2 separate regions of the Homo sapiens genome follow, and region 2 is linked to region 1. The links come from fine-mapping of genetic effects on gene expression. Tissue or cell type: whole blood. Region 1 holds a variant in brackets; the other region holds the start of a gene. All regions are shown on one strand. Distances are from middle to middle.

Evidence for each region.
Region 2: HS6ST1 starts here. The variant in region 1 is fine-mapped to the expression of HS6ST1 in whole blood (TOPMed, PIP 0.99).

What each region holds. Positions count from the first base shown.
Region 1 is chr2:128,288,178-128,303,582 of GRCh38, forward strand. All of the region lies in intron 1 of HS6ST1 (heparan sulfate 6-O-sulfotransferase 1), which reads right to left. Among named protein-coding and RNA genes, the nearest start is that of HS6ST1, 23 kb to the right of the region's middle. RefSeq lists enhancers at 1-485, 6,944-7,493, 11,765-12,363, 12,364-12,961, 12,962-13,560 and 1 more. The variant C/T (reference allele first, on the strand shown) is at 4,603.
Region 2 is chr2:128,311,246-128,326,650 of GRCh38, forward strand. HS6ST1 (heparan sulfate 6-O-sulfotransferase 1) reads right to left here and starts at 7,623. Exons shown (of 2, transcript NM_004807.3): 1 at 6,792-7,623. The coding sequence starts at 7,318. RefSeq lists enhancers at 1-813, 5,481-5,630, 11,658-12,590 and silencers at 6,632-6,861, 7,556-7,965, 10,622-10,941, 10,982-11,191.

The DNA of each region.
Region 1 (15,405 bases):
GCTGAGGCTATTGCGAGGACTCACGTGGCCCTTCCTCTTCCTTACAGCCTGTAACTACACATCCACCATGGCTGCTTGGGCCCACCAAGAGAGACGTGGAGGCCCGAGAGGGAGGCTGGCGGCAGCGTCAGGTCCTGCCGGGGTGTGCAGTATTTGTACCCTGCTATGAAACTGTCCCTGCCAGGTGAGAAAGTGCTCAGGGCCCTGAGGCCAGCCAGCACGACTTGATACCTACGCCCGGTGACTCCATGGCAGTAGAAAAGCACAGCCCTTCTGGGGACTCTGCATTAACACAGAAGCTCATATCTGTGTGCACAATGGGCAAAAGAGCCACATCAAAGCTTGTGGGTACAGCCTGATGCCAACTCTGGAAAACACATCAACTGGAGAGATGGAGCAGAAATGCAACCCGCGCCAGGTGCCCTGGGCCTAGTGCCCTGGGCCATTTTTTCTTTTACTTTTTCTGTATTTTTCCGATTTTATATAACCATGCATGTATTAGAAAACAAACAAACAAACAAAACAATCTAATCTGACTTTCTCACAGGAGGTAGGAGAGTCAGGGAGGCCTGGGAGGCTCAGGGCCTCCCCAGCAGCCTCTCAGGACATCTCCAAAGCCACAGGATCATCACCAGTAATCAGCCTTTCTCGGGGTCAGGAGGGCGAGAGCTCATCTGAGGATCACTGGGGGTGTCCCTGGGACCCCTCCAGGCTCCACCTCCTGCTGACCCCACAGCAACTCATGTCAGGGTCCGAGGCAAAGTCCTGGTTCTCACCCACGACCCCACAGAGCCTCTCTGCAGCGAAGAGGGGCTGACACCTGCTCCCTCAACCCCCGAGTCCATATAAACACAGAGGCGGCCGCGGAGAGATGGCCTTGCATGCTCTTGAATGTAGACTATTCTTCCCCAGACAGGGAAATTCAGAGCCTAAACAGCCCACCCCAGAGATAAGCCATTCTGTGCCCAAGCTAACTGCAGTATCCAACTCTATACTCCCATGGCCCTGGCTCTACTTACAAGGAGGGCGACAGCTCCGGGTGATGCACTGAGAAAGCTGTCACCTGAGCAGTGACCCTGGGGACTCGGGAATGCTGACTCTCCAGAACCAGCCATTTTATGGCCCCCCATCAAGCACTTCTGTGGTTGGTGCCTCCAAAAAAGGTTAGGGCCCAGCAGGCATTTGCTCATTTTATTCCTGCAACCCCGGTACGGTCGCCACTATTAGATCCCCCTGCAGATGGGCAAATGGAGACTCAGAGATCCTTCTGCAGCCAAAGTCTCCCAGATACCAGAGGTGTCTGACTTCATAGGCCACAAGGCATGTCTGCTGCTCACCCACGTGCACGGTCCCTGAGATGAGCAGCACGAAGCTCCCAGGAGAACCCGGCGCGCCATTGGCAGCACCAGAAAACAGGTCTCCAGCTTGCTAAGGGATCTGCCATCCAGCAGCTGTGTGGCCCTGACGAGTTCCCCAAGGAATGCATCTGTCATCTGTTTCCTCCTTGCACAAAACAAGACAATATGCCTCCTGGAGGTCACAGCATGACGCTCGGCATGAGGATGGGCCCACCCCAGCTGGCAGGGAAAGAGAGGAAGCTGCCGGAACAGACCTACCTGCTTTCACCAACCACAGGCCAGAGGCACCAGGAGAACATGTAAGAGATAGAGAGAGGATAGCTGTCAGTCAAATTATTTGTATAAAATGTCCAAATATAAGTCACAAATAGCCCGATAATCTCAAAAAGCAAAAATCAAAGCAGTAGTTTAAAATCTTCCTAAAATATTGAGGAAATGCCTGCAGCTTACATTCAAATGATTCTACTAAAATGCAAAAGCATGTATATAACTACATATATAAATATACATGTAAGTACACATGTATCTACAGATATACATATATGTAAACAGCAAGTGAGAGCACCCACTCACAAGCACAAATATTGCAAAATGTTAACAAGCAGTGGGTCTCGGTGAAAGGTATGAGGTTCACTTTACTACCATTTCAACGACTTTGTAAGTTTGACATTTTTCAAGATAAAAAGTTAGGGGTAAAATTCCTACAAAGAAAGTGCTGGGCTATTTCTACCAAATTTTAAAAGAACCAGATTTTTGTAAGCAAACCCTCCTAGACAAGAGTAAAGCAGTGGACACTCCCAATTCATTCTATGAGGCCAACATAATCCTAATACCGAAGTTGGACAAATGCACAAGAGAGGAAAATTGCAGCCTGGTGGACACATCTGCTAAGCTCAGAGTTCAAATATAGATACAAAAATTCCTCAACAAAAATCTTATCAAATCCAACCCAATTGAGCATATAAAAGATATTACACTACGACCATACTTAGTAACCCCAGGTATGCAAGGATGGCTTAACAGGAGAAAATCCATACATGTGACTCATCACAGCAACAGACTACAGAGCTCAGTAAATGTGTAAGAAGCATCTGCTAAAAACACTATTCATAATAAAAACTCTCAGGAAACTAGGAATAGAAGTCCCTTAATTTGGCCAGGCGTGGTAGCTCACACTTGTAATCCCAGCACTTTGGGAGGCTGAGGCAGGTGGATGACTTGAGGTCAGGAGTTCAAGACCAGCCTTGCCAACATGGCGAAACACCGTCTCTACTAAAAATACAAAAAAAAAAAAAAAAAAAAAAAAAAAATTTAGCATGCATGATGGCACGCACCTATAAAGAGGCTGAGGCGTAAGAATCACTTGAACCCAGGAAGTGGAGGTTGCAGTGAGCGGAGATCGTGTCATAGCACTCCAGCCTGGGCAAAAGAGTGAAACTGTCTCAAATTAAAAAAAAAAGTTCCTTAATTTGATAAAGTATCCCCAAAACCTAGAGCAAGCATGGTCCCCATGGGGAAGAGTCAGATGCATTCCCTCTAAGATCATGAATAAGACAAAGATGTCCACTCTCTCTAAGGCAATTCTGCATGTACTGGGGATCTCAGCTGACACAATAAAACAAGGAGGAACTAGGGACCTAACTGTCCCAGTAGAGTCCCCTTGCCTGTCCTTCTTGTCTTTAGTGAGTACCCCGTGCAGGCATTACTAGGCTGGGGGCTTCACACACCCTCTCAGACAGCCGGAGTCCCGGCATGGGGGAGGGCTACTTTTCTTGCCCACTGCCCTTGCCCTGGGTCCAGAGCACCCCATAGTTAAGGCTGTGGGTTTGCGCTCAGTGAGGTGTGAGTCCTGGAGGTTTGGGGCGGCCATGGCACTGGAGCAGCAGAAGGAAGCATTAGCCTCCTCAGTCTGGATCCTCACTGTGTCTCTTGGGGGCTAGACCTCTGGCAGGGAGGGCCCCAGGCACTGGGTGAGCTCAGAAGGTGCGTCAGCGGGAGCAGCTGGCTTCTAAATGAGCTCACCAGGGCCTGAGGGAGAGCCCCTGGCTGCAGGACCTGGGTCCTCCACAGGCTGACGCCATGCCTGGGGCAAGGTGGACCTCAAGGGAGCCAGGGCACAGGCTGTGTGCCTCACCTGGCCTGGCCTCTCCAGCCTGGGGCTCTTGTTGCCTCATACCAGTCCTGCTGCTTTCCATCACTTGGCCCCTCCTCTTTCCACGGGGAGGCCCTGGACAGACCTCACGGAGGCAACCCAGCAAGGATGTGGCTAACAGCTGTGCAGGGGCGCCGGCGGGCATCTGTCCACAGGCTCTTCCCCAAGGGCATACACAGGCTTCCCTATAGGTGCTTCTTGCCCTCCATTCCTTCCGTCCAACACCCTCCCTGCTCAGGGCTGACAGGCTCCTCTGAATGCACACTCTTCTCAACGCCAGGGGAGACCCTGCCAAGCTCCTCCATCCTAGGGTGGCTGTGTGGGGAAGGGTCCGGCTCAGGAGAAGGCCCCTGGATGCCAGGAGAGGGGCCTGGATGGAGCCGGCAGGGGAGGCGGCACAGGGCAACAGTGAGGAGGGTGAACTGAGGCCGGGGGGGCTGGGCCCAGCAAGAGTGCCAGGGATTCCTGGCCCTGCCCAGCTCTAGGCCCTCTCAGTGCCACAGAGACCACCTGGTGAAGGTGTGGGGAGAGGGATCCCCAGAGGGTCCATGCCAGGCAGTCTGGGCCTGCTCACACCATGTGTATCCTTCCATAGGGCCCACGCCTGGCAGGACCCTGGCTTGGAGCGGCTTTAACTGTGGCTGGGCTCCTGAGGAGGTAAGGTGGGCCCTGTGTTCCACGCCCAGCTACCCACCCAACACCTTCTCAGGGCAGGGACGCCCACACCAGTCTGGACACAGAACAACCCGGGGCGAGACACGTACTGGAGAAGACTGTGCTCCTCACCCCGGCGCTCTGGGACCTTGCTTCCCAGAAGCTGGAAGGAACCAGCCAGGCATCCCGGCGAGGATGTGGAGGGTGGTGGTGGGCCCACCCCTGCCTCAGGGAGGGCGGCCAGGCTCACGGGGAGGCTGTGGCATGTGGGCATGTGAGTGGGCAGGGACAGCCCAGCAAGGGCTGTGGGAAGCCGGGAGGGCAGTGCCCTGTGCAGTGGCTCCAGATTCAGGGCATTCAGTGTGCAGCAGGCCAGGGCAAATGGCACGGGGGGAATGGGGCGGAGGGGAGGGGCGGTGACTCACAAGGCCATGGGGG[C/T]GGGCAGAGGAACAAGGGCAGCAGGAAGGGCAGGCAGGGGTGCTATCAGCTGACGGGCTCCTGCTGGAAAAGACGGCTCGACTCACAGGAGGGCACCTGAGACATGGGGTGTGGGGGAAGGCAGCGGTCGGGGAGAGCCTAGGCAGGCCTCCCACTTGTCAGCCTCCCCAACTCTGTTGCCACTCCTACTGCAAAAGAGCCCTGGAGACCACCCTGGGTCTGGGGTCCTTGCCGTGGCTGCAGCCCCCCGCTGCCCACAGCCTGTGTGGTTCCACCCATGGGCCTGGTGGAGCTGGTCCCTGCTCTGCTCCGCCACACCAGGCCTCCCTCCCCAAAGGCTGGGCCTTGCTCTGCATGCAGTGGGGCCCAAACCAGCCAGGCACTCCAGCGTCCCACCCGCACACCCTGTCTCCTGCGGAAGGGCACCGCTCCCAGGCACAGCCCGCTCTGAGCCAGGGGCATGTCACACAATATGGCGCTTTTCTCCTCTTCTGGCCTGGCTCCCCATAAGCCTGCCCAAGGGCCAGCCTGGGCCTGGGCAGAGCAAGGCCTGGGAATGGCTAAGGCTTTGAGGCCTGGAATGAAGCATGACCGTCACTCCCTAAAGCCATGAGTAAAGCTAGTCTGAGGAGTAACTGTGGCGGCTGCCACCACCTGCTGGGCACTTTCCTTGCAAACACTGGGGTGGCTCCAGATTTCCCAGAAACCACTGTTCCTCATACCCCAGGACGGGAGGGGACCTTCGAAGTTGGAAGGAGAGCAGCAGCAGACCATGGTCCGAGGGGCGCTTCCCGGGGCCACAGCTTTGGGGGATGTTTAGCAAAACCAGGGGCTGGTATGGCCTGGAGGGCCCGGAGTCAGAGGAGGAACATGCTCCCAGATTCTTTGGGGCCCACGGGGACAGAGGGCAAAGAGAGACCATCAGGTGGCCTCAGGTCACCAGTGAAGGAAGGCGAGTTACATTTATACCAAGCACCTGTTTTGGGGGTCCTCTGGGGGATGAGGAAGGTTGGATTAACCACCAGCTCAGAAGGCCAGTGCTATGTGAGCAGGGTCTGTGGCCACATAGGATCCAGTTAGTCCTGTGGTCAGCCTCTAAGTGTGGAATGGCCATGCTGAGCCAGGCAGAAGCTGACCCAGTCCTGCTGAACATCCCAGGGCAATGGTTTCACCACAGGTTGGGGGTCCATGCTGAGACCACGCTGCAGGGACACAGGGGCACCATGTGGGTCCCGAAGCCAGTAGGCTTGGCTCTGTACCTCCTTGAGGGCAGGGCCCTGCCCTCTCCTCTCTGCACCTGCCCTGCTGGCCCAGACCCTCTGCTGGAAACCTGCCCCAAACTCCATGAAGCACTGTCCTTCACATCACAGCTTCTGAGCCTGGACTTGACAGCCTCCTCCTGAGACCCCACATGGCTCTTCTGTCATACACGCCCTGTGCCCGGCCCTGGCACTGTGCTCTGGATGGCCTGCACCAGGCTAGTGACAATTCACTGACTCTACTGCATCAGAGGGGGCACAGGGCGGGGTGGGCTGTGATGGAGGGCCCCGGGCCCTGCCCATGAAGTGCCGCAGTCCCCGAGGGAGGGGAGGGCTCTCCTTGCTAGTGCTTGGGTCTTCCTTTGTTCTCAGCCTGTCTACTGGGTAGGTGGGACTTGCCACCTTTAGAAACTTGTTCACCCTGGGGCAGCCTGTCAGAGTCAAGAGGCGCTGGCTGTCCTTAAGATGACACCAGTTTCAATAGGTTGGTGGCCCAGGTAGGATGGAGACGCTGTCACACTCCCACCTGGGAGCTGCGGCCCCTCTGAGGACAAGTGCTCTGGGGCCTGGAGAGCTGGGAGAAGAAGGTGGGCTACTGGGCAGTAAAGAGGCTCCACCGCAAAGAAGGGAGGCGTGTGTGTGTGTGTGTGTGTGTGTGTGTGTGTGTGTGTGTGTGTGGAGGGGGAGACAAAAGAGGTCTTCGGACCACCCTCCCACACCCAGGCTCTGGGATTTCCTGACTGTGGCCCACAAGGTACAGGGGTGTCAGCCTGGGTGGGCAGGCCCTGGAGCCTCCTGCTTCCTGAAACTCCTTCCTTCAGGCACATTTGTGCTGATTCTCCATGGACACAGCCCTAGCACCCCCAGAGAGGCTCCAAGGAACAAGGAAAATAAGAAGCAGTTGCCAGGATACCCAAGGCTCAGTGGGCCCCATGACCTACTCCAAACCACCTCCCCCTCTTGGTTTTCCTGTGTGGCAAGGCAGAAATGCAGGAGTCTGAAGGCAGAGGGGTCTGGATGTGCCCAGTGAGGAACCAGCAACTGAGTGACCATGCGCAGATCCAGTGCCCTCTGAGCCCTGGGTCCCTCTGTCCTGAAGGGCTACTGTGAACACCGTGAGATGTTGCCGGCTGATGGCACAGGCAGCATCCTTGCTGCCTCCCCTGTGCTGGGCACACCCATACTGGCTCATTTGGTTCTCTCCTCACTCCAGGGCAATGGGTACCATTCTTCTCTCCACTTCAGGGCAGGGGGTACCACTCCTCTCCGTTTATAGTTGAGGAGTCAGGCACAGTGAGGTGAAGGCCCTTGCTCAGGGCCACACAGCTAGGCAGCTGCCTGGGTGTCCACACCCTTGACTGCCAGGGCTTGTGACTAGGCTCCCAGCACATGCTGGGACCTGAGAGGCTCTCCTGGGACTAACACAAATCTTTCCCAAACTTTTCCAAAAATCTGAAGTGAAAAGAATACTTCCTAACTCATTCTATGAGGTCAGTATTATCCTGATATCAAAGCCAGACAAAGATATAACAAGAAAATTACACACTGATGTCCTTTATAAATACTGATGAAAATATCCTCAGCAAAATACTTGCAAATTGAATTGAACAGCATATAAAAATGATTATGTATCATGACCAAGTGAGATTTATCCCTAGAATGAAAGGATGGTTCAAAATATGAAAATCAATGTAGTATGCCACATTAACAGAATGAAGGAAAAAAACACATGATCATCTCAACTGATGCAGAAACATCATTTGACAAAATTCAATGCACCTGCATAATAAAAACTTTCAACAAACTAGAACCAGAAGGAAACTACCTCAGTGTAATAAAGGCCATTGCTATGGACTGAATGTGTGTGTTCCACCAAAACTCATGTTGAAGTCCTAATCTCCAACGTGATGGCATTTGGAGGTGGCGACTCTGAGAGGTAATTAGGTCATGAGGGTGGAGCCATAATGAATGGGACCAGTGGCTTCATAAGAGAAGACATGAGAGATGATTTCTTCTCTCTTGGCCATGGGAGATGCAGGGGATACAAGACAGGCAACAAGCCCTCACCAGTTCCACATCTGCTGGCTCCTTCATCTGGGACTTGGGTCTCAAGAACTGTGAGAAATAAACACTTGCTGCTTGAGCCACCCAGGCTATAGTGTTTGTAATAGAGGCTGAGCTAAGACAGCCAGATATGAAAAACTCACAGTTAACATCATATTCAATGGTGAAACACCAAAAGCTTTCCTCTACTTTGGGAACAAGGCAAAGATGTCTACTTTTGCCACAGCTATTCATCAGAGTACCGGAAGTTCTAGCCTGAGCAATCAGGTAAGAAAAATAAGTAAAAGGTATTCAGATTGGAAAGAAAAAAGGAAAGTTATCTCTCTTCTCAGATGACATAATCTTATATGTAGATAATGCTAAAGAATCCACTTCCACACACAAAAACCTGTTAGAGCTAATAAACTAACTTAACAATGTTGTTAAAGTAAAAATTAAAAGAAATCAGTTGTATTTCTATTCACTAGCAACAAACAATACAAGAAGGAAATTAACAAAACAATTATGTTTTTGTTGGCATCAGAAAGTGTAAAATATTTAGGAGGAGACTTAACCAATGAAGTGAAATACTTGTAAACTAAAAACTACAAAACACTGATGAAAGAAATTAAAGACAACCCCAGTAAATGGAAAATCATCCCATGTCCATGAACTGAAAGACCTACTATCATTAAGATGTAAATACTACTCATGTAATCTACAGATTTAATGAAATCCCTATCACAACCCCAACAGTATTTGCTGCATAAATAGAGTAACTTAACCTAAAATTCATATGAAATTTCAAGGGATTTTGAATAGCTAAAGTACTTGACAAAAAAGAATGGCTCATGTCTGTAATCCCAGCACTTTGGGAGGCCAATGAGGGAGGATTGTTTGAGCCTGGGAGGTTAAGGCTGCAGTGAGCCAGGTTCACATCACTGCACCTTAGCCTGGATGACAAAGCGAGACCCTGTCTCAAAAACAAACAAAAAAAACCCCAAACCAAAACAAATACAAAACAAAGTTGGACTCCCATTTCCTGATTTCAAAACTTAACTACAAAGCTATGGTAGTCAAATCAGTGTGGTACTGTCATAAAGATAGGCATATAGACCAATGGAATACGATAAAGAGCCCAGAAATCAACCCTTGCATATATGGTCAAATGGTGCCAAGACCATTCAATGGGGAAAACACACTCTTTTCAACAAATGGTGCTGGGGAAACTGGATTTCCACATGTAAAAGAAGGAAATTGGACCCTTATCTAACATTATACATAGAAATTAACTCAAAATGGATTAATGACCAATGGTAAGACCTAAAACTGTCAACTCTTAGAACACAGGAAAAAAGCTTTATGATACTAGATTTGGCAATGATCTCTTGAATATGACATCCAAACACAGGTAACAAAAGAAAAGCTAGATTAATTGGGCTTCATCAAAATTAAAAACATTTAGGCTGGGCATGGTGGCTTATGCCTATAATTCTAGCACTTTGGGAGGCCGAGGTGGGTGATCCACCTGATCATGAGGTCAGGAGTTCGAGACCAGCCTGACCAACATGGAGAAACCCCGTCTCTACTAAAAATACAGAAATTAGCTGGGCGTGGTGGCACATGCCTGTAATCCCAGCGACTCAGGAGGCTGAGGCACGAGAATCGCTTGAACCTGGGAAGCAGAGGTTGCGGTGAGCCGAGATGACACCATTGCACTACAGCCTGGGCAACAAGAGTGAAACTCTGTTTCAAAAACAAAACAAAACAAAAAATTGAAAATATTTGTGCATCAAAGGATAGTATCAACAGAGTGAAACGCAACCCACAGAATGGAAGAAAATATTTGTAAATCATATATCTGATAAGAGATTAATATCCAGAATATATAAAGAACTCCTATAACTTAACAACCCAATTAAAAAATGTGCGACATTTGAGTAGACATTTCCCCAAAGAAGACAGACCAATGGCCAACAAGCAGATATAAGATGAACATCGTTAGCCATTAGGGAAATGCAAATCAATACCACAATGAGATTCCACTTCACATCCATCAGACTGGCTATTATCAAAAAACAGGAAGAAATGTTAGCAAGGATGTAGAGAAACTGGAACCCTTCTGCAGTGCTGGTGGGAAGGTAAAATGGTACAGCTACTGTAGAAAGCAGTATGGTGGTTTCTCAAAAAAAATGAGATACAGAATTACCATATGATCTAGCAATTCCTCTTTTAGATATATTCCCAAACAATCTAAAAGCAGAGACTTAAACAGATATTTGTACACCCATGTTCCCAGCAGCATCATTCACAATAGCAAGAAGGGAGCAGCCAAGAGTCCACTGACAGATGAAGGGATGATGAGCAAAATATGGTACATATAGACGATGGAGTATTACTCAGCCCTAAAAAGGAAGGCGATTCTGACACAGGATAAAATATGGATGAACCTTAAAGACATTATGCTAAGCCAGTCGTGAAAAGACAGTATCATATAATTCCACTTAAATCCGCTATCTAGAGTAGCCAAATTCATAGTCAGGAAGTAGGATGGACGGCGTGAGAGGCTGGAGGGAGGGGAATGAGGAGTTCGTGTTTAATGGGGTCAGAGCTCAGTTTGGGAAGATGAAAAAGTTCTGGAGACGGATGATGGTGATGACTGTACAATGTGAATGTACTTCATGCCACTGAACTGTACACTCAAAAATGGTTAGAATGGTAAATTTTATGTTATGCATACTTCACCACAATAAAAAACAAAAAAAGGCTTTCCCACAACGAGTGTCCTCAAGAGCCAAGTCCCAACAGCTTCTCAGGAGGGAAAGCAGCACGTCCCTGGGCGCGGCCACCCTGGGCCCACCAGTGGGGCTGGCCCAGGCCTAACCCACCCCTCACTCCCTCTCCCTCCTGCATGACTGTGTGGGGTACTCCTCGGCTCTCGGAATGAGAGGACCAGAGGCCAAGGGCACCAGAATCGGCCTCAGATGGGGCAGAAACACACCTGGACGTGGCCCAGGGCCGAGGTGTGACCTAGCCAAGGACCCAGTTTCTGTTCTTTGCAGGGACAGAGCAGGCTTCGCAAGTGCCTGCCTCCTGCCATGCAGCAGAGAGCACACAGCTCCCTCCTTGCTCTGCACCACAACTCCCCGACGCACCCCAACAGCATGGGAGGTGGTGTTCTGCTCTCCCGTCCTCCAAAGGAGCAAACTGAGGCCACAGCTGCACCCTTGGACACAGGCCCATCAGCAGGAGCGAGCCCTCTGCCCTGGCCGGCCCACTCTTAGCAAACTATAAGAGGTCAACACAACACAGATTGCAAATTATGCTGCTGAGGCTCTGCTGGCCCCAGTCTCAGTGTGACATGTGGGGAAACTGAGTGGATGGCAGGTCATGCCCTATCCTCCAGACCCCTACGCTGGACACTCCAGGCCCAATGAGGAAGAGCCACAGCAGCAGCTGAAGGCACATTGAGGCCCAGCCCCATGTGGTGGATGAGGAAACTGAAGCAGAGAGCTCACAAGCCGGTGAGGAGCACAGTGGATCTCTGTCTTTGAAGGCCACGCGTGACCTGTGCCAGGCCCCCGGCAGAAAGCTGGGGCACAGAGGGTAATCACAGTGGGCCAGGCCTGCCTGGAAAGACCCCAGCTGGCGGAGAGACAGAGGCACACAGGGTAGGGAGCTGTGGCTGAGAGGCTCATAACCCCTCCCCCATCCCGGCCCTGCTAACACAGCCCATCTGCCAGGCGGAGGCTGGGGGTGCTGGCGAGGGCAGCAGACCCCTGGGCTCTGAGCAGACGGAGGAAACACAGCTTGTGGCAGCACAAACACCAGCGCCAGCAAGGCAGGGTGGCTCTGGTGGGCAGAGGGCTACCCCACCTCCAGGCCGGGGTCTTGCCAGCCGCTTCCCATCAGCACTCAGATTGTCTTGTGAAGCCCAGGCTGGGGCAGCATGGGAGAGTCAGGCCTGGACCCGGGTGACACTCTGCTTATACTGCTGAATTCACCAAACCAAGGACCCCAGCGGCTTCCTCTGTAAAATGGGGGGCTTCTCCAAAGTTCCAAGCACACTCCAAGCTCCTGCAACCAGAACTACAGGCCCATCCCCAACCCACGGCATTAAGCTGAGGGCATAGCTGGCATGGACGAGGCTGTGCAGGAGGCCCACACAGCGGAGCCTGCCCTCCGGAGAGGGCCTGCAGCCCCAGGACACAGCTACCATCCCTACCTGGACCCTGGCAGGGATGGGACACTGGAGAAGAGGGGGGGACCACCCACCCTCTCCCAAACCAGCGCCGCCTTGGGCCATGCTGGTGACCAGGTGTGGCTTCCACAGTACGCCTGCCCCCAGCCCTGCACCTGGGCCACGTCAAGGGGGCCGTGTGTTCGCGGAGGTGTCTACCTGGGGCGCTGTGTGCACGGGGGTATCTCTGGGTTCTTGGGCCCTGAAGCTGAGCAGCTCCAGTCCCTCTCCCAGCAAGTAGGGAGGGACAGCTGGGACCCCCATAGGACTGTCTGTCTAGCACCTGTTGTAATTAATCTCTTCGGGGGAGGCTGTAACTAAGGGCAGGGTGGGCGGACCACCTTGAGTTACGCAGGTGGAGGACGAGGATGCCCAGGACTGGGCCCAACTTCTGCCCGGCAGCATCACCTGGCCACACCCAGGGCCCCTGCCATGCCAGCTGTGCCCACAGTCAATCCATGAGATGCCTAGGGCAGACCCTCCTCCCAGCTGCTCTGGGCGTGTCTCACCCTCCAGAGCAGCTAGCCCCACACCCCGTCTGAGCCTCCGCCAGTATCTTTCTCAAGGGAGAGCCGCCACCGTGTGCTGTGTGTGGTGGGGGTGGGTGCAATGGCACATGCCTAAGAAATGAGTGCCTCTGTCATTGTCATTAGCTGGGGAGGGCAAAAGAAAGGAATGGGAGCCCTGGGTCACAAAGTTTGAGGAGTCTGGGCTTTTGGCTGCTTGGGTACATGCAGCAACAGCCTCCTGAATGGTCTATAGAAACCAGCCTTCCCTCCCTCTGTGAGGGGCAGGGGTTTCTGGGGGCTGCGTAGCTCTAGCCGCCCCTCTGTGTGGGACTGGGGTCGCCGGGGGCTGCATGGCTCTAGCCACTCCTCTGTGAGGGGCAGGGGTTCCCGGGGGCTGCGTAGCTCTAGCCACCCCTCTGTGTGAGGCAGGGCTGCATGGCTCCTGTACCCCTCTGTGTTGGGCAGAGATCCCCAGGGGCTGCATGGCTCCTGCGCCCTGTGTGTCAGGCAGGGGTTCCCAGGGGCCATGTGGCTCCAGGCTACCCTTCCTGTGTCTGCAATGACAGCAGATCGTCTTTGGAAAAGCATCTCCTCTAATATCCTGGGACCATTTCAAAGACTTCTGAGAGCTCAGGATGGAAGAGCAGCCCAGCTCAGAATGGAAAATTGCTCAGCTCTTAAAGGGACCAGTGGGAAGGAATTTCAAATACGAAGAAACATCCCCAAGTGCCAACCACTTGTAAGGAAAAAAGGAATTCTTGTTCCAGAATGTTTCTGAGTCACCACTGGCGCCAAAGCATGAGCTACTGCTGGGGATGTGTGTATATGAGCGTGAGCGTGCGTGTGTGGGAGAGCGTGCGTGCTTTGTCAGCCCCTGGTCAACCCTGGGAGTTCTCCAGCCTCTCACCCTCAGGGGTACATGTGTGCTGGTTTGAAGCCTGCAGCTGATCCTGCCCGCTGGGCCCAGCCTCCATGGGGTCCCCGGCACTCATGGACATCGGGCAGCATGTGTTCCTGGGCCCCACTGGCTCACGCAGGCATCACGGCTGCCAGACAGTCAGGGACACCATGCTGGCCGGTGTCTCCCTAGTGGGAACAGCTCAGAGGCTCCAGCTTGGCCTGAGGGGAGGGAAGGCAGAGGACTGGGCTCTCCATGGTGCCGCCAGCTCCTCTCCCTGGATAAAGTCATGCCCCAATGAGAAGACATTCCCGCCAGAGCCCTGAAGCCAGTCCCATCCCTCAGGACACCCTGAGGCAGTAGGTGTCACTGCTCAGTGTGACCAGAGTGGAGGCTGTGCATGGGGACTTCTGGCCAGGTGCTGTGCTCCAAGCTGGCGCTGCTGCCTCAGGGAGTCTGAGAGGTGTAACTAGGGGAGGATACCTGGTCTCAGGCCCCATGACTCACTGGCCGCCTGCTAAACTGGGGACCTTGAGGTCAAAGAATGCCATGGGCAGCACACATGGGTCAGGCTGAGCTGGAGCTGTGCAGCCAAGGCTGGCGTGCATGTGTGTCTGCATGTTTACTGATGTGTACGTGGTGTGTTCACATGTGGGAGTGCATGTGTGGGACTCTCTCACTAAGCATCCAGCTGAAGACACTCCCATCTGATCCACTCCCTCCCAGCCCCAGCCCTGTGACCATCTGCAGCTCCTCTAGGTGTAGGGCTAACGGTTCCCCAAGGGTGGACCCAGTCCTCTCTTGGGGCCCAGGAATAGCTCTGCACGCAGGTGCTGGTGACTGAGTGGCTCCTTGACATGGTGGCTCCCTCCCAAACCCCCTGCTACTCCTGTGCCTGGTGGCTGGCTCCCCTCCCCTCACTCCCTCAAGCTGCACTTGGGATGCTCCCCACCAAGCCCCTGCCACCACGGGGCTTCAAGGCATTTCCTGATTCAGGCCCAGCCCTTGAGGCTAGGTCTCCCATTGTGGCTAGGTCTTCCATTCCAACGGCTCTGTGGTGGGGCCTCTTCCGCAACGGCCCCCATCTGAGTCCACCCTCCCAAGGCCTCTTTTGGGAAGACAGCCGGCCAGTTCCCTGCTCTGTACAGGGCAAGGCCTGGCCTCTCAGCTGCTCCAGCCTCTTCTCCCCCGACGGCCTGCCCTTGAGGTCCTTGCTCACGGCATCTTCTGCCTGCAACGCCCTCCTGTCCTCACCCCTCCCTGTGTGTTCCTCCAAAGTGCTGACCACATGTTTCTCTGGTCCCCCACAGTCTAAACCCCAGGAGCCAGGCCCACACATCCGACCTGCTGCCCATTCCCAGGAGGAAATGCCAGGCTTTTCTGGGGCCTGGGCCTGCCCCACCCCTGATGCCCAAGGGCGAGGCACACAGCCAGGACACCTCCACTCTCGACGTTCTCTGAAAGGATGCCCCAAGATGCAGACCAAACATGCAGCCAAGAGGTGCTTTGCAGCATCACAGAGGACAGTAAAGGCAGGGCCAGGAGGGCATGTGAAGTGCTCAGGGACACGGGGCCATGCAGAGGAGCTGGGAGCAGGCTGACCCTGACCCTAACAGCACAACACCCATGGGGCCACCCTGAGGGCTGAGGACAGCTCTATGTAGTGCCTCTGTGCTTGAGAACAAGTTCTAGAATCAGCATGCATTACTGTTACAGTAAGAACAAAACCGAAGAGAAGTACCTAAAACGTAGTTTCCAGATCTAGCACCCAATCATGCAAAACCCTGAGCTTAAAGTCCCACCTGCACACGCACCTGTCTGGGCCCAGATGCTCCTCCATACATGGTGGGGGGA
Region 2 (15,405 bases), 23 kb after region 1:
TTCTTGCAAACAAAATGTCACCTCACCTATAAATACTGCTGTGGAGTGGGCCTCAAGGAGAGGAGAGCAGGTGCCAGTGAGTGTCCAGGTGGCTGCAGAGAAGTGCCCGAAAAGTGCTGGCAGGGGATGGCCCGAGTCTGCCTCCCGCCTGAATCATGCAGCCCTTCCAGTGGGGCTCCCATCTGACTGGGCCCCACATGCTACCACTCAGTAACTGCTCCCCAGAGCTCGGCTTCTCATGCTCTTCCCGCCTCAAACCCAAAGACCCACCACACGCTACCACCAAGTGGGGATTGAGCCCAGTCCTGCTGCCTCCGTGATGCTTGAGGTCTGACCTAGAAACACCCCACAGTCTTTCATAGAGGGGGTATGCAGCCCCACAAAATGCCACATGGGATGGTGATGGCACCCAGAGAGGGAAGCTGAGGGGTTGGGGAGACTCCTGGGTTTCCCATCTCCTCACCCTCCAGCATTCACTGGGGCAGAGCAAGGACACTGGAGCAGAGGGATGGCCTAGACCCACCTGCACCCACACAGGCTCACAGCACTGCCTCCTGCAGGGCTGATCCTCCCTGGGCCGGTGGTGGCATCGGTGGTGCAGGACCAGAGGAGTACCTGAAAACAGCCCAATCTTATGGGGGAGGTGGCAGAAGGGGTGGCCACACTGCGCCAGGAGCCAAGCACCGCCATGGGCAGTCTCTGCTGCCAGGGGCCGACTCTCAGGCAGCCTTGCCAGCACTACCTTTGCAGAGCCCAGAGCCCAGGCATGATGCCTGTCCTTCTGCTCTGAGTGAAGGCTGCCAGGTGTCTTCCAGTAAACGCAACGACACAGGCCTACATGTGAAACTGCCCATGTCTGCCCAGGTCTCAGAAGCCCTAGTGTTCTACATCTGGCTGGTCTGGGCCAGCGGCAATCGCCCCCACCTGCAGACAGCCTTCCATGCGCATGCAGGGGTTGCTGGGAGCAGAGGGCTGGGTGCGGCATACAGCCTTCAGGACAGACAGACAGATGTCCACATGCTAGCTCCTGGCCCTCCAGGCTGAGGGACTGACACATTCTCCACCTTCTCTGGGGCCTGACTTCCTTGTGTGGAAAATGGGGCTGCTCTTCATATACTTGTCTTGGGGGAGTGTTGGGTCCAAACAAGATGACCCATTCCAAGTGCCTGCTAAGTGTGCAGGGGACAAGAGTCACCCTGCCAGCCTCTCTACATGCCCCCATGGCTTGTCACGCCTGTTCCTCATAGAGGCGGAATTCAGTCCCGCAAAATGCCACATGGGATGGTGATGGGCACCCAGAGAGGGTGCACCCCAGGCCCCTGGGAGCTGCACCCCTCTCTCAGCAGGGGTGAAACTCAGCCACCTGTGAGCAGGTGGCGACATGTGGGTGACTGGGCATGGCTGCTCCCAAGTGCCCTACATAGATGGGCCACCCCAAGGGTGTACTCATTGGGCAAGGCTTTGCAATAAAAACCATAAGATTAGCACTTTTCGGTGATTTAAGAGAATAAATTTAAAAAAAAATTCACAATAGGCTGGTGCGGTGGCTCACACCTGTCATCCCAGCACTTTGGCAGGCGAAGTCGGGCAGATCACCTGAGGTCCCGAGTTCGAGACTAGCCTGGCCAACATGGTGAAACCCCGTCTTTACTAAAAATATAAAAAAAATTAGCCAAGTGTAGTGACGGGCACCTGTAATCCCAGCTACGTGGGAGGCTGAGGTCGGACAATCGCTTGAAACTGGTAGGCAGAGGTTGCAGTGAGCTGAGATCGTGCCATCATTGTCCAGACTGCACCGGACAGAGTGAGACTCCATCTCAAAAAAAAAATTCACATGCTATTCAGTACCAATGAGTGTGCCACTGACATGGGTGCTCACAGACCACAGGTGGGAGCATACCAGGAGTGGGTGTTCTGAAGAGGAAGGTAACATTTGTACCAAGAGCAGTAAAGACATTCAGACTATTCAACTCAGAAATTCCACTCCTAGGAATCTCCAGAGGAAATCAGAGCTATGCAGAACATTTACACACAAGGAGCAGTCCTGCAGCAGTCCCCACAGAGTACAGAATGAGCAACCTGCGCACTCACCCACTGCCAACCAGCGGTGGCACACTCAGAGCGGAGCAGCTGCAGCCACTCAAATATTAAGTTTTTAATGACAACAGACAACATTTATGGTGAAATTTATATGATGGCTTCAATTACAGTGGAAAAACCATGCATGGGGAATGGATGATTTTCCTTTTCTCCCTCTGCCTCATACTTTCCTCCCACTCATCTACCAAACAATCATTATAACCACAACAAAGCGGGGTGTGAGAGCAAAAGCCTCCAACTCCCCGAAGGACGACAAGACCAGGCCCCTTCTCCTCCTCCCTCCTGGGCCCTGGAGGATGCCAGACCCAAGGTGGCCACTCCCCCGTGTGGCAGCCAGAACTCCTGCTGAGAAAGAAACCTGGATTCCCTGGCCCTAGGGACCAAGGTGGGCACTGCACTCTCTGGGACTGGGCTCTCTGATCCAGGAGCAGGAGTCCCCAGGCCCCAGTTTTATGCGTGAAGTGCCTAGGACAGGAAGCTGTGGCTTGAAGACCACCAGAGCAGCATGGCAGAAATGATCCCCCAAGCTAGAGGACCATCTAAAACGATCCTGTCACCCAACCATTCGTAAGTTTGCCTTATCATGTGTTTGCTTAAAAAAAAAAAAAAAGGATTTTTTATCTATTTTTAGTGAAAATCTAGGAGCATCTTGACCACAGATTCCCTTCTCATCTTAACCAAAGGCCTCTCTAGGCAATGTAGGCACAGTGACACCCCCAGCCTGGTCCCCAGGTCCTGTTCATTGGCCCCAGTCACATGCTCTGGGTAACATCTGTCCCCATCACAGCAGATGAGGGTTTCTCCCTTGATCTCAAAGAAGAAAGCGATTATGAAGGTAAGGTGGAAACTGTCGCATGCCACAGAAACGAAGGCTCTCATCCAAGCCCACCCCTACCTGGTCTGCCCCACCAAGGAGTCCCCAGGTTCTCAGGGAACACCATGACACTCAAGACTGACTCCGTGAACCTGAGTCACAGGGAAAGGGCAGGGACAGAGCCCAGATCCTGCAGAGTCCAGGAAAAAAAAATTCCCATGGTGCCAGCATGAGGGCAGTGCCAAGGTGGCACGGTGTCAGATGGGACAGCAGTCGAGGCGCCTAAGGCAACAGGGGAGCCTAGGAACAGAAAGCCAGGGAAGATTTCCTGGAGGAAGGGGCATCTGAGCAGACTGAAGGGAGGGGAGGAGCAGGCAGAAAAGTGGGAGAGGAGAGCAGGCACACCAGGTGGACGGCACACAGGTCCAGCACCAGGCGGATTTCTGGAGTCTGAGAAGGCTTCAGGATCACGGAGGGCAGGTCAAAGGCGAGGCTGCGGGCTCCTGCGCCATCCCTCCAGCAAGGAAGCACTGGTCTCTGCAGGGCAACGTCACAGAGGCTGCGAGCCCACTAAGGGCTCCAGAGAGGCCCTGGTGCAGAGAGGATGTGAGCTGGTCCCGGGTTCCCGGCCAAGGTGGCCCAGATGCCACACTTGGGCTCCAGATGCCCTCCGTGGCCCCAAATGAAGCCCACATGATTTCAGGGACATTTCCAGGGTGGCCCGGGCAAGACCTTGACCATGCCTGTTCTTGCGTTGCCTTCAGGCAGACGGGAAGAGGAAGGAGGGAGGTTCTGGCTCTGGAGCACCATCTGGACCCTCTGAGTGACAGCGGAGTGTGGGGTGCTGAGACATTCTAACCGAGTGGTCCCTGGAATGGCTGGCCATTTGGCTGCTGCCTGGGGATGGCCACACCTCTTTAAGGCCAGCCAGCAAACGTCCTTCCAGTGGAGTCTTACAAGCACCCTGGCTGATGTCGGCAGATGAGGCAGCCCCCATGGTGAACACAGGACTAAACAGGGACCCGCCAATGCTCTGCTCACTCTTGTTCCTTTCTACCAAGGCAGCCAAGCACTAACAGCCACTAGAAGTTCCAAACCATATTCCAGGAAGACATCAAAAACCTGTCCATCTCCATGGATGCCCAGCTCAGAGCAGCCCAGGCTGATACTGTGCAATGGGGAGGCTGGCAGCCGGGAAGAGCCCCACCTCTCTTACGCGCACCACAGGCCCACTGAGACCCTCCCAAACCGCAGCAGGGAATGGGAGGGGCTTGGTGGAGAGGTTCCAGGAGCCAGCCTTGGGCAGGGAGGCAGGCAGAGATAGAAGGAAAAGAGGGTCTCAGTCCCCAGAGAACACGGAGATGGCAGTGCAGAGCCAGAGTGAAGACATCGCAGGAGGGCCAGGGTGACACCTGAGTCTCCTGACACCAAGCCCACTTAACATGAGGCACCCCAGCAGGGATGGGCACTGCCCCTGATAGAGAGTTGCTGGGTCCCTGGGCAGATGGGGGAAGTGCATCCCAACCGCCACAGCAGAGCAGCTTAGCCCAGCTCCAGCCTGGGCCAGAAGACTCAGGTGGCGGGGCAGCGCTCAGCAGGTGGACCTCAGTGCAGCTTGGCCCTGCGAGCACAAAGGCAAGATTACCTTGGCCTCCTGATGAAGCTCATTAAAAAAGCAATCTACCTAGTGCCTGCAACAGAACTGAAGGGAGTGGAGGCGGAGAAGAGGGACTCGGAGGGTGGGGTGCTGTCACCTGCCCGGTAGCACAACCCACTTCCAGAGTGGGTGGCAGAGGGGGCCTCCTGACGGCCCTGGAAGCCCCTCCCAACCCTGGCGCATGCTGCTGAGCTAGCAATTTCCAGGCTGGCAGCCCACCTCCGCCAGAGGCATCTGCGTTTTCCATTCTTGCTCCACACATGCTCCCTGGGCAGGGGGAGCCGGGCCTTCCTGGTGTAGCACCTGGGGCCCCATCGGCCCCACCTGGTCCTCCCACTCTCATGGACAAACTCCAGAGAAAGGAGGCCAAGGCTCTTCACCCTGGGGACCCACAGGCGTGCGGGGCTGCAGGAAGAGCATCCTGGTTGCAATCTAGGGCTGAGGTGGCCTCTGCTGAGCAGGCTTGTTTCAAAAGCTCCGGCTTCTTGGCGGCCCGAAGCTTCCACGCAATCCTCTTAGGCTGCCGAGCTAAGTCCCTCTGGCAAAGGGGGTGACCCCCATCCTTGCACCCCCCACAGGTAGGGAGGCGTCTGTTGGTATTGGTCAGTGACCAACTCTGGGAGCCTACTGCTCTGACTGGTGGAAGGGTGGGTGGGGGCATGGCTGTGGTCCCAGGCACAGCTGAGCCTAGCACAGAGAAGCTGGACCAGGGTTAGGGGGGCCCTGCAGCAGGAACGTGCATCTGTGCAGAGCAGACTAAGTGCTGGGCCGGAAGCAATCCTTCAGGGGCCCTAGACAGGCAGCTCTGTGACCGCCAAGTGTAGAATGTGGCTGTAAGAGGCTCAGAACATCACCTCCCAGGCTGGGAGCTGCAGTGTGTGTGTGTGTGTGGGTGTGTGTGTGTACAGTTGGGGGAGGGGGGAGAAAGAAAAGTGGGAAGATGCCCCTCCAACTCTAGGACCCCAATTTCCTGACAGCCTGAGAAAGACCACAGAGCAAGGATTGAGGTCTGTGCAGGGGAGCAGTGTCTCGGACTCTGCTCAGCTCCAGGCTGGCTGGACCTTCCAGGCTCCCCAGGCACACCTGAGAGCCTACAGCCTCTGGACCCAAGAGTGCCAGCCAACACGCCTACAACCGCCCAGCCTCCTACCACCAGCCTGTCTGCAAATTCAGTCCTAAGGCAAATTTGGAAGAGAAACAAAAGGCAGACAAGAAGCCCTGCTCCTGGCCCTTCCCAGCCCAGACTTTGGGGAGAAAGGCCCCGCAGGGCATCCCTGCAGGACGAATGGGCACCAACAGGAACAGGAGGAAAATAACCCCAACTTTAACTGCTGGAAACCCAGCAGCACCCCAGGTTCCCCTACAAACGGCTTCCCAGAAGAGCTGCCCCGGCACCCCTCCCATGCTCTGTGTCCTCACGCAGCTCAGCTCTGACATGGGGCTGGGGGACCCCAGAGAAGGGGTGTGGCAGCACAGGTTCCCTGGACCAGCTCAACTACCCCCAACCTGGCTGGTAGCTTCCTGGGGAAGGTGGTCCCCCATCGGGTGGCTTTTGTTCCTCTCTCCAGGCAAGCCTGTGCCTGGAAGAATTCGGCTGGCAGGCCCCACTGGGAGGACAGGCGGTACTGCCTCCTCCCCGCCCCCAGCCCCAGGTCAACAGGGCCTTTGTTCTACCTGCACACACCGGCAGGCAGGCGGGCAGAGCCAGCCCCCTTCCCTGGCAGCTCCCCCACCCTCTGAAGGCAGGCACTCCAGGCACAGGGGCGGCACCTCACTACTCTCACTTCCACTTTTGGGACCACAGCACCGAAGCGGCACGGGGAAGCCAACACTCCAGGTAGGCCACGCACACACCCAGAAGCCCGCGTCCCCAAGTCCGGCGGGCCAGACCTCACGGCGCACAGCAGGTAAGGTGGCCCGAGGGCAGCGGGCGGGGACCCTGGAGAAAACCCGGGCGCTGCGCAGTCAAGCCGGCAGTAGGGCAGCACAAGGCAAGGAAGAGAGTGAGAGCGAGGTCAGAAAGCGCGGTGACAGCCGGCTCACCCAGAGGAGCTGGGAGCCTCGGGCGCTCGGCAGGTCGGGAGGGGTGCCGGCGAGTGGGGGCCCCCAAGAGGGCAGAAGGGGGTAGGGAAGGCAGGGCCGACCCAGTACAGCACGGCGGGCATACGGCCCGGCCTCGGGGGCGCAGCTGCGCGAGGATCCCGCCGCCCGGGCGCTCACCTGGGCGTGCGCAGCGCGGCGGAGTCGCGGCGGTCCAGCACGCCGGGCACGCAGTTGGTGAGCTCGGTCCAGTCGGCGTGCAGCCCGCAGCTCCAGCCGGTGGAGAAGCGGGAGAAGAGCCAAGTCTCGCGGCGGTTGGGCCGGTAGCAGGTGCACTTCTTCTGGCCGGGCCGGCAGTCGCACGGCACCTCGAGGCGTACGTTCTGCACGAGGTGGCGGCCGAAGGTGGTGCCGCCCGTCTTCTGGATGTGCAGGAAGACGATCACGTCGTCGCCCTTCATGTCGAAGCGCAGCGAGCGCTCCAGCTCGCGGACCGGGAAGTAGTACTTCTTCTCGTAGTGGGGGTCGGGTGTGGGGAACAGGTCCAGGTCGTCGGGCGGCGCGCGGCCGCCGGGCGCGCCCAGGCTCAGTCCTGGGCCCGCGTACTGGTACAAGATGAGCATGAAGCACACCGAGCCCGCCACCACCAGCACGAACTTGCTGGCGCGCTCAACCATGGTCCTGCCGCCGGCGCGCCGCCGCCGCATGTGTCACCATCGCCGGGGCCCGGGCGCGGGGCGCGGGGCCTGGGAGGGCAGGAGGCGCGGGCGCAGCTGCCTCCGCCGCCGCCCGCGCTCCGGCCCGGCCCGGCTACTCGGCGCCCAGGCCGCCCGCAGCGGCGCGGGCCCCGACCCTCCGCGGTGCCATGGCTGCTCCCCGCCCGGCCCCGGCTCCCCGGGCCCGACGCCCGACTCCGCTCCCGCTCGGCCCCGCTCCCGGCCCCGGCCAGCACAGCGCTCTCCGCGCCCCCAGCACCAGCCCGCTCCGCTCCACTCCGCGCCGAGAACGCTCTGCGCCGCCCCGCGCGCCGCCGCGTCTCCGCAGTCCGCCGCCGCCGCCCCGCCCCGGTCCGCCCCTGGCCCGCCCCCGTGGCGTCTCTTGCCGTCGCCGCCCGCGCCGATCCTCGGCCCCGCCTCCGGAGTGCCGGGGTTCGCCGCGGGTGCTGGGCGCGGGACCTGGGTCTGCTGCGGTGGCGAGGCCGCTAGCAGGCGGGCAGCCAGCGACTGGGAAGTGATTCCGCCCTCAGGGGAGTGGGGGACCAACCGGCAGTGCGGAGCCGAGGCGTGGGAGGCTCTCCTGGCGGGGGCCGCGGTGAGGGGGCGCGGCGGCTGGCGCTTCTGGAGCCTGGGTCCGTACCCCCTCCTCCCCAAGTCCCAGCCGCCCACGTCCCCGCAGCCCGCGCGGGAGGAAAGGCCTTGACCTTGCACGCTGGGGCGCTGAAGTTAGACGCTAGCCTACTGGGCTGCACTTCCAGGGACCAGGGCGGCGGGGGCCGCCCACCACCAGGACCGAGAGGGAAAGCGAGGCTTTCCTTTCCTGCTCGACCCCCTCACCCCTGCGGCTGGCTTTGGGACAGTGCCCCGCAGCCCCGCATTGAAGAGATGTTGGGCTGTCTGCAGAGGCCTGCGGAGCGGCTTTATGGCTTCCTCCTTGTTTGAAAAGAATATCAGACGAGGTGCATTTTCCCCCATCCATGTTTATTATACTCCAATGAAAGAGTTATAAAACATTGAGCCAATTCTTAAGAATCGTGAGTGCCCACCAAATATTCTGTCTTTCGTGGGTTGGTTGGAGAGTCCAGCGGCCCGGGCCCAACCTGGCTGCGGAGGGCTCGCTCCACGTTGGCTCGTGTGTGGGCCGGGTGGTGCGGGCTCCTCACTCGCCGCCGCCCAGCCTGGCAAGCACGCGCGGCATTCGTGGGGCGGGGGGTCCCGCCAGGTGCCCACTCACACTGCTTGGGCTCTGGCAGTACTCGGAGGCTGCAGCCCGTCGGAAGCGCAGGAGTGGGGCTGGGACCTGCCAGGATCTCACAGCTGCAGGGCCGGCCGCGGTGGGCCCTAGTGTGTTGGTTCAGGCCAGCGAGGGCTCTGGGAGCGAGTCTGGCTGCCAGGCGTGGGCTCCCAGTGTCCACGTCAAGCCCTGCCGGGGACGGGGTGGGGGGGGAGGCGGGGTGGTGCCCTGCCTTCCGTTCTGTTAGGGACCGGAAGCGATCATGGGGTGTCAATTATGCCTCAGTAAAGCTGTTAAACGTAGACAACATCACACCAGAAAGCCCTCCTGGAAGCAAACCCAGAGAGCTGGAAAAACCAACACCCCAAACCCAGCTGAGCGGGCGGCATGCATTTTCCAAAGGGACCGCAAGAATATCCGCTGTGGACAGGCGGGTGCAGAACCCTCAACACAGCCCAGCGCACCCTGGAGTCCATGGTGTGGGGTCCTCAGTGGGACCTAGGGCCCCAAAGCCCCTGCTCATCTTGTAGGCTGCTTTAAAACTGTCCCTGGCCCGAGGGTCCTGGGGGCAGCTTGGACAAGCTTCTCCAGAAGTGACTCATTCCTATAGGAGTGGGGGTGCAGTCCCCATGGGACACAGGTGGGGCCGCCCTGCAGTGTGCTTGGACCTGCCTGCAGCCCCTTGACGCAGTCTGTGCCTGAGCCCTGGGGAGCCTTCCTGTGTGGCCTAGGGGAGCACAGCTGCCCCGGGTCCACCCCCCAGATGTCCTTACCCAGATAAGGATCCTCGTGCTACATCATAATTAAGGCTGCTCTTTTGGAGACCTGCTGGGTGCCAGGCATTGTAGAGGTGTCATTTCCAATTCCATCAGCAAATCTGCGGGGGTAGGCTGTGATATCCATTTACAGAAGAGAAAACTGAGGTTCAAAGGGGTTAAGACCCTGGTTCCAAGGTCAACCACTCTCACCCCATGAGAGTCAGCAGAGCTGGGATCCTGATTCCTGCTGTGAGCCCCAGAACCCTCCCCTTCCCCACCTCTGCACTTGCCCCAGCTCCCTAGGCCAGGGATGAGAGCGTCTACAGGGGCCACTCCTGAGAGCCTGGTGACCGTCACTGCCACCAAGGGGGAACGTGGGCCCAGAGTGTTCAAGGGAAAGCTGGAGCAGCTCCGAAGGCCAACGAAGCCATCGGTACTTGGGCCATGGCTCCACCCTGTGATGATCTCACTGTCCCAAGGGGGAAACTGAGGCCCAGGCAGGGACGAAGTGCCTGTGATAAGGTCCCACCCTTGAATGGGAGCCAGAGCAGCCTGACCCATGGAGCAACATCTCCCAGAACAAGCTATTTAATCCAACTTCATACCTGCCACACTGGCTGATGGGAAGCACTCACATTAGCCAGGAAGCCCTTTCTTTCTAGAATTCTTTTAAGAGGAGGGAAATCTGCCTGGCTGGCTACAGGACTTTGCTCAGTCTTCCACTTTGATTGAAGCCCTGCACAGGCACCTGAGACCCTAAGGCTGTAGGTGAGTTTCTGGGCTCTGAAAGTCAAGTCAGATGAGCCACCCATCAATCAGTGGACACTTGAGCCGAGTGGAAGGCAGCTCGAGCCCTCGTTGGCGGGGCAGCTTGCATCACGCTACTCCCCACCACTTCCCGCTACTCCCCGCGATGAGTCCTCAGTGTCATGTCTTGGAAAATGGATAGAAACGCACAGTCTGGGGCTGGCGTGGGGTTCCAGGAGGTCAGCGGACACAGCCAGGGTCTCAGGAGGCGCGCTCTGCGCGCTGTTTCCTTTCTTCCCTGGGTGATCTCCTGCGTGGCCAAGGTTTGCCCCAGCCCCGAGAGTGCATATGAGCTAAGTGTTTGCTAGGGGCAGCTTCTGGCCCTGACTGCTTGTGGGGTCCAAGGAAAAGCACTGGCAGCTCTTCTGCTCAGTGGCTTTGTCCCCTGAAGATCCACTTCACCAATTCTTTAATGCGTGATCTCTGACTTAATGGCAAAGAAAAGTAAAAGAACACGGCTTAGTGGCAGGCTGTGATGATCCCAGAAGAGGCATTAACATTCGGCTTCAGGAATGAAGCCTCATTCCCGGCCCACCGTGCGGTCTCAGAGTCTGAGAACCACGAGATCAACAGCGGCGCCCCCTCCCGGCGCACAGTCCCGCGGACGGCCGCGCGGGGGCAGCACGCGGCCCGGCCCCCGAGCGCCCGCGGTTGACTTTGCAAAAAATTGGGGGATTTTCCACACTCGCTTCCCTCGTCGTTCGTCCGGCGGCCGCCCATTGTTGTTTGCCAAGGGGTGGAGGAGGGCAGTCGTGTCTGTCCTCAGAGCCTCCCGTGGGGCTGGCCCCGCTGCCCACGCGGGGCAGAGAGAGGGGTTTCGTTTGGGGACAAACTTTTAGAGGGGACTCCGGCTCGCGCGGACCCGCGGGGCCCGGCCCCGGCCCCGACCCCGACCCGGCGGCAGGCTTGGGGCGCCGGGCTGCGCGCCGTGGACGCCACCTTCTCCGAGGTCGCCAGGCCCCGTCCGCAGCCGCCTCCTCCAGGGAGCCCGCGGCCCCTTTGCCGCCCAGCGGCCCCGTGCCGGGCTCCTCCCCCAGCACCGCGGGGCGCCTGGGCTCCCAGGCAGCCCGCAGACGCGGCAGGTCTTCCCAGGACCCGAGGGACGCGCTCCGGCCGCTGCCCGGGGACAGCAGGGGTCCTGCGGTTCGGTTCGAGGACCGCGCTGGAAGAGGCCCGGGGCTTCGGAAGGGCCATTCCCCTCCCTCCACGCCCGCCCAGGGCCTCGCTGTTCTTTGTGCCCTTTCTCTAGGCCCTCCAGGCCCGCTTCAGTCCTTAGGGGAAGAGGGTAGGATAAACAGAAGAGGAGAACCTGAGCAATTCGTAGGGGCAGCGTGGTCCTGGGCTTCCCCGGCCCTTGCCCGCCCCCCCCGCCCTGCTGGCTCGGTGACCTCCCCCTGGCTGGCCCCCTGCCCTCGCGTGTGACGTGGGGTTGTTGGCAAGTGGGGGGCTTGGACTGCTGCCTGGCCGGGATTCGGAGTCTGTCCAGTGGAGCCCACCCTCCTCCCCGGGCAGCGGGACTGTGGGCAGGCCTGGCGGGTTCTGCCAGCTTGGGAGGCAGGACAGGGACCTGGTAACGTTGCCCCAAGGGCATCGTCCTGGTTCTTCTGCTTGAAACTTCCCAAGGGACATGTCTTTAGACGACTAGGGTGGAGGCGGGATCACAGCCTGGATGGGGTGGGGGGTGACTGCTCGCAGCTTCCGGTGGCCAGTGGGTCTCCTCCCAGATGGCTGTCATTCACTGCCCAGAGGGGTTCCGACTCGGCCGGGTCGGGGGAGCCACCAGAGAGGGCACTGAGCAGCTTGACAAGCTCCACTGTTGGGGATGTTCCCTGGGGGTGGGGTGGGGTGGATGGCGGCTCTTTTGAGGGTGAAATGTTCTAGTCCGAGAAAAGTCACTCAACCATGGGGTGCTTGCTGCTCCCACCCCAGCTGCCTAAGCCACCAGGGGCCGGGGCACAGGTGGAAGAAGGTGGCCTCAGTCCTGGGCCCTGATGCCTAGAAGGGCATGGTCAGTGCCCTCCAGGCAGCCTTGCCTGATCGTTGGGGCTCGGGACCAGCTCCCACTCTGCTCCACTCTCTGCTGGCTGGACTGGCCACCCCTCTGTCTGTGGAATTCACTTGGTGCCAGTGCCCTTCCTGGAGGATGATGGCCGGCCCCCATGCTCCTCGTCACCAGGTCCTGCTCTTTTTACCTCCATTCATCGCCACTGCTATTAAAGAGTCGCCCTCTTGCTAGATTACAGTTGGCTTGACAAGTCAGTTGACTGTTCTGATGGAAGCTTCTTCTTGGGCAGGGCCCCAGGGCCTTGGTGGGACCCGGGCCCTGGGTGGGGGCACAGAGGTGGGACACAATGATGGCTTTATGGAGCAGGCCCTGCCCGCCCCTGTGGCACTGTGGGGAGGGGGCTCACCTGTCCCTAGGCCAGGGCTCAGCACGGCAGCGGTAAACCTGGCTGGCCTTGACACTTCCTGGAATCTCTCAGTGACCACGTTTCTTTTTGCACCAAATAGCTATGGTTCTTGCTGTTCGTTTCTCTCCCTGCCCTCCTTTAAGAAGGAGAGTTCGTGGGAATTAGACACTCAGGGTTGGGGGAGGGTAACCTTGGCTCCTGGTGGGAGGAGTCTGCGTCCTTCTCTGGGCCCAGGGCCTATGGGGCAGCAACAGCATCTCCTCTATTCTCAGAGCATCCAGGGACAGGGTCACACCATGGGTGTGTGGTACACCAGGTCGTCCACCTGGCTGAAGGCCTGGGCTGGTGACAAGTGCTGTGGTGCTGTTCAGGCCAGCAGAAAAGAGGGAGGCACATTTCTGTCAGCAGACGGGATGGGGTATGGCTCACACCTGCTGGGCTGGAGGCTGTGCTCCACCCAGGGCCTCAGGCTGTGTCTTTGACAACAATAATCACCCTATGGGCAAGGTCTGCGTGCTGAGCCCTTGTCAGTCACATCTCTTATAATCCAACAGCAGCTCTGTGGGCCTCTCCTTACAGATGGGGAGGCTGAGCCCCAGGGACATGAGGCCACTTGCCAAGGTCACAGAGCCAGTGGGTGCTCAGCTGAGGCCGCGAGGCTGGGAGAGGCACCCCTCAGGTAAGGGGGCTGGAGAAGGGAGTCCACACCAATGCCACCCACGTCTATACCGTCGTGACTGCCATGCAGTCTTGACCAGCCTTGGGCCGGGTGAGGGCCTCCTGGTACGTGTTTTGCCCTTGACTTTGGCTTTTGGGTGACTGGGGTTGGGACACTCCTCCTACCCTCAGGCTGGTCCCTGGAGGGACCACCTGGGCTGGGGGCCAAGGAGGAAGGTCTCAGCCTCAGTTGTAGGAAAACAAAGTTAAACATTATCATTAGGAGTAAAGGTGCTATGTTCACACCCCAGCTCTGTCTAACCAGCTGTGTGGCCTTCACCAAGTTACTTAACCTCTCTGAGCCTTGGTTTCCTCATCTGTAAAGTGAGGATAATAATGGGACCTACTTCATAGGGTCATGGTAAGCAATAAGCAAGCAAACGCTTATTCCACAGCCCTGTCTACGCCAAGGGCTAGGTATTCCTACTGTCGATTTGTGGGAAGCACCCTATCAGCATCCGCATATTCAAAACCAGCTACTCGGCTTCTCCTGTGTGCCAGGCCCTCCTGTGCGCTGGCCTCCTCTGTGCATGATTGTATTCAGTGCTCTCGGCTGCCCTATGGGCATAATTCCCTCATTTCTCAGGTCAGGGAGCTGAGGCTGAGCAGAGGATAGTGACTTGGCCAAGGGGACAGTGTCCCCTCCCTGGTGAGAGCCTTGGTTGAGGGTCCTCTCCACCTTCCCATTTCCCGACTCCCAGCCCTTGGAGAAACCCAAGTCCTGGGCTCCTGGGCAGAGCCTAGCCCCCAGCCCCCAGCCCGGCCTGGACCACGTCCTCCTGCCGGGTGGGGTTGTAAGGTGCCCTGCTGCTGGGCTGTTCCTCCTGTCCTAGGGTCTTGACGCGCTTACCTTCCTCTTCCATCTTTCCACGCCCTCCTTTGACTCTATCTCTGGTGCCATTTCCAGGGTTTGTAGCTGAGCTTAGAAGAGGGGAGCTGGAGAAATGGGTCTATACCTCCTTGTCCAGACCAGAACTCAATCATAGCTTTTTCTTTTTATCTGCTCCCATCTTCTTGAGAGCCCATCCCACTGTGTGGCAGAGAAAACCTGTATTACTTCCATCCTGTAATCCCAGTCTGATCCAATAATTGTTAGGCTCTATTTGATTTCTTGACTTTTGTTTACGAAGAGTTTAAATTCACACAGAAGTAGAGAGGGTAGCACAGTGAGCCAATTCCTGCCCTTACCCGGAGTCTCCGGCTTCCACGGCTGGCAGCACGTGCCTGTCCCTGCTGCAGCCTGCCCTCTCCAGCGGAGCACCAAAAGCCAACCCAGGACAACACAGGCTTTCCCTGCTAGTGCTGCCCTCTGCTTTCTAGCTTCAGGTCACCCTCGGGCCCTGTCTCAAGGCTGCTTGGTCCCTACTCACACACCCCAAGAGAATGTGTGGTCTTCCGAGATCTGAATTCTTTGGGAGTCCCAGAGGGCCCCAAAGCAAGAGCAAAGGGCGAGGTTCATAGGCAGCGGCTGGCCCCGGTGTGAGCTGGCCACTGTCCAGCTAGGGAGGCTGATGGAGCCTGCTTGGCGTGCCATGGGCACAGGCACCAGGCCTGCAGCTGGCAGGACTCTGGGCCTTACCACAACCCCCAGACCTGGCTGTCATGGGAAAAGCCCAGCCCCGGTGGGCCATGGGGGGGCCAGCCTGCCCCTGCCCATACCTCAGTCAAGCTCTGCATCCCCATTTGAGGCATAAGAAGCCTCTGGGCTCTATTTCTGCCACAGAGAAACCCAGGAAGGACAAACTCAGCCCCTCTGCTCCACCGTGTCTATCCTGCTGGGCCTGCCCTGCAGAGCAGCCTATACCCAGAGGCTCCTAAGGGCAGACAGAGCCCCTCACAGACACCTCTGTATTCCAGGACATCTACTCCTATCTTGAAATATTAAGAGATAAAAGATTTACAAAATCCTCATCTCAACAAAGTCTGCCTTTCAAGCCCGTGGGCCAGGTGCAAACTCAGAAAGCCTGGTTTTGGAATTCTAAAGCCGAGTTTTCATTCTTGAGAGTCCAGGCCGCCTGAGGCAAAAAGATGCCTCCTGCAGAAGAGGGAGGTGGCAGGACCAGGAGATGCAAATGAGATGGGTGTATTCACATATTTCAAACAATGTGATCAAGTTGTACAGAACTGAACACACACACACCAATGAGAGCA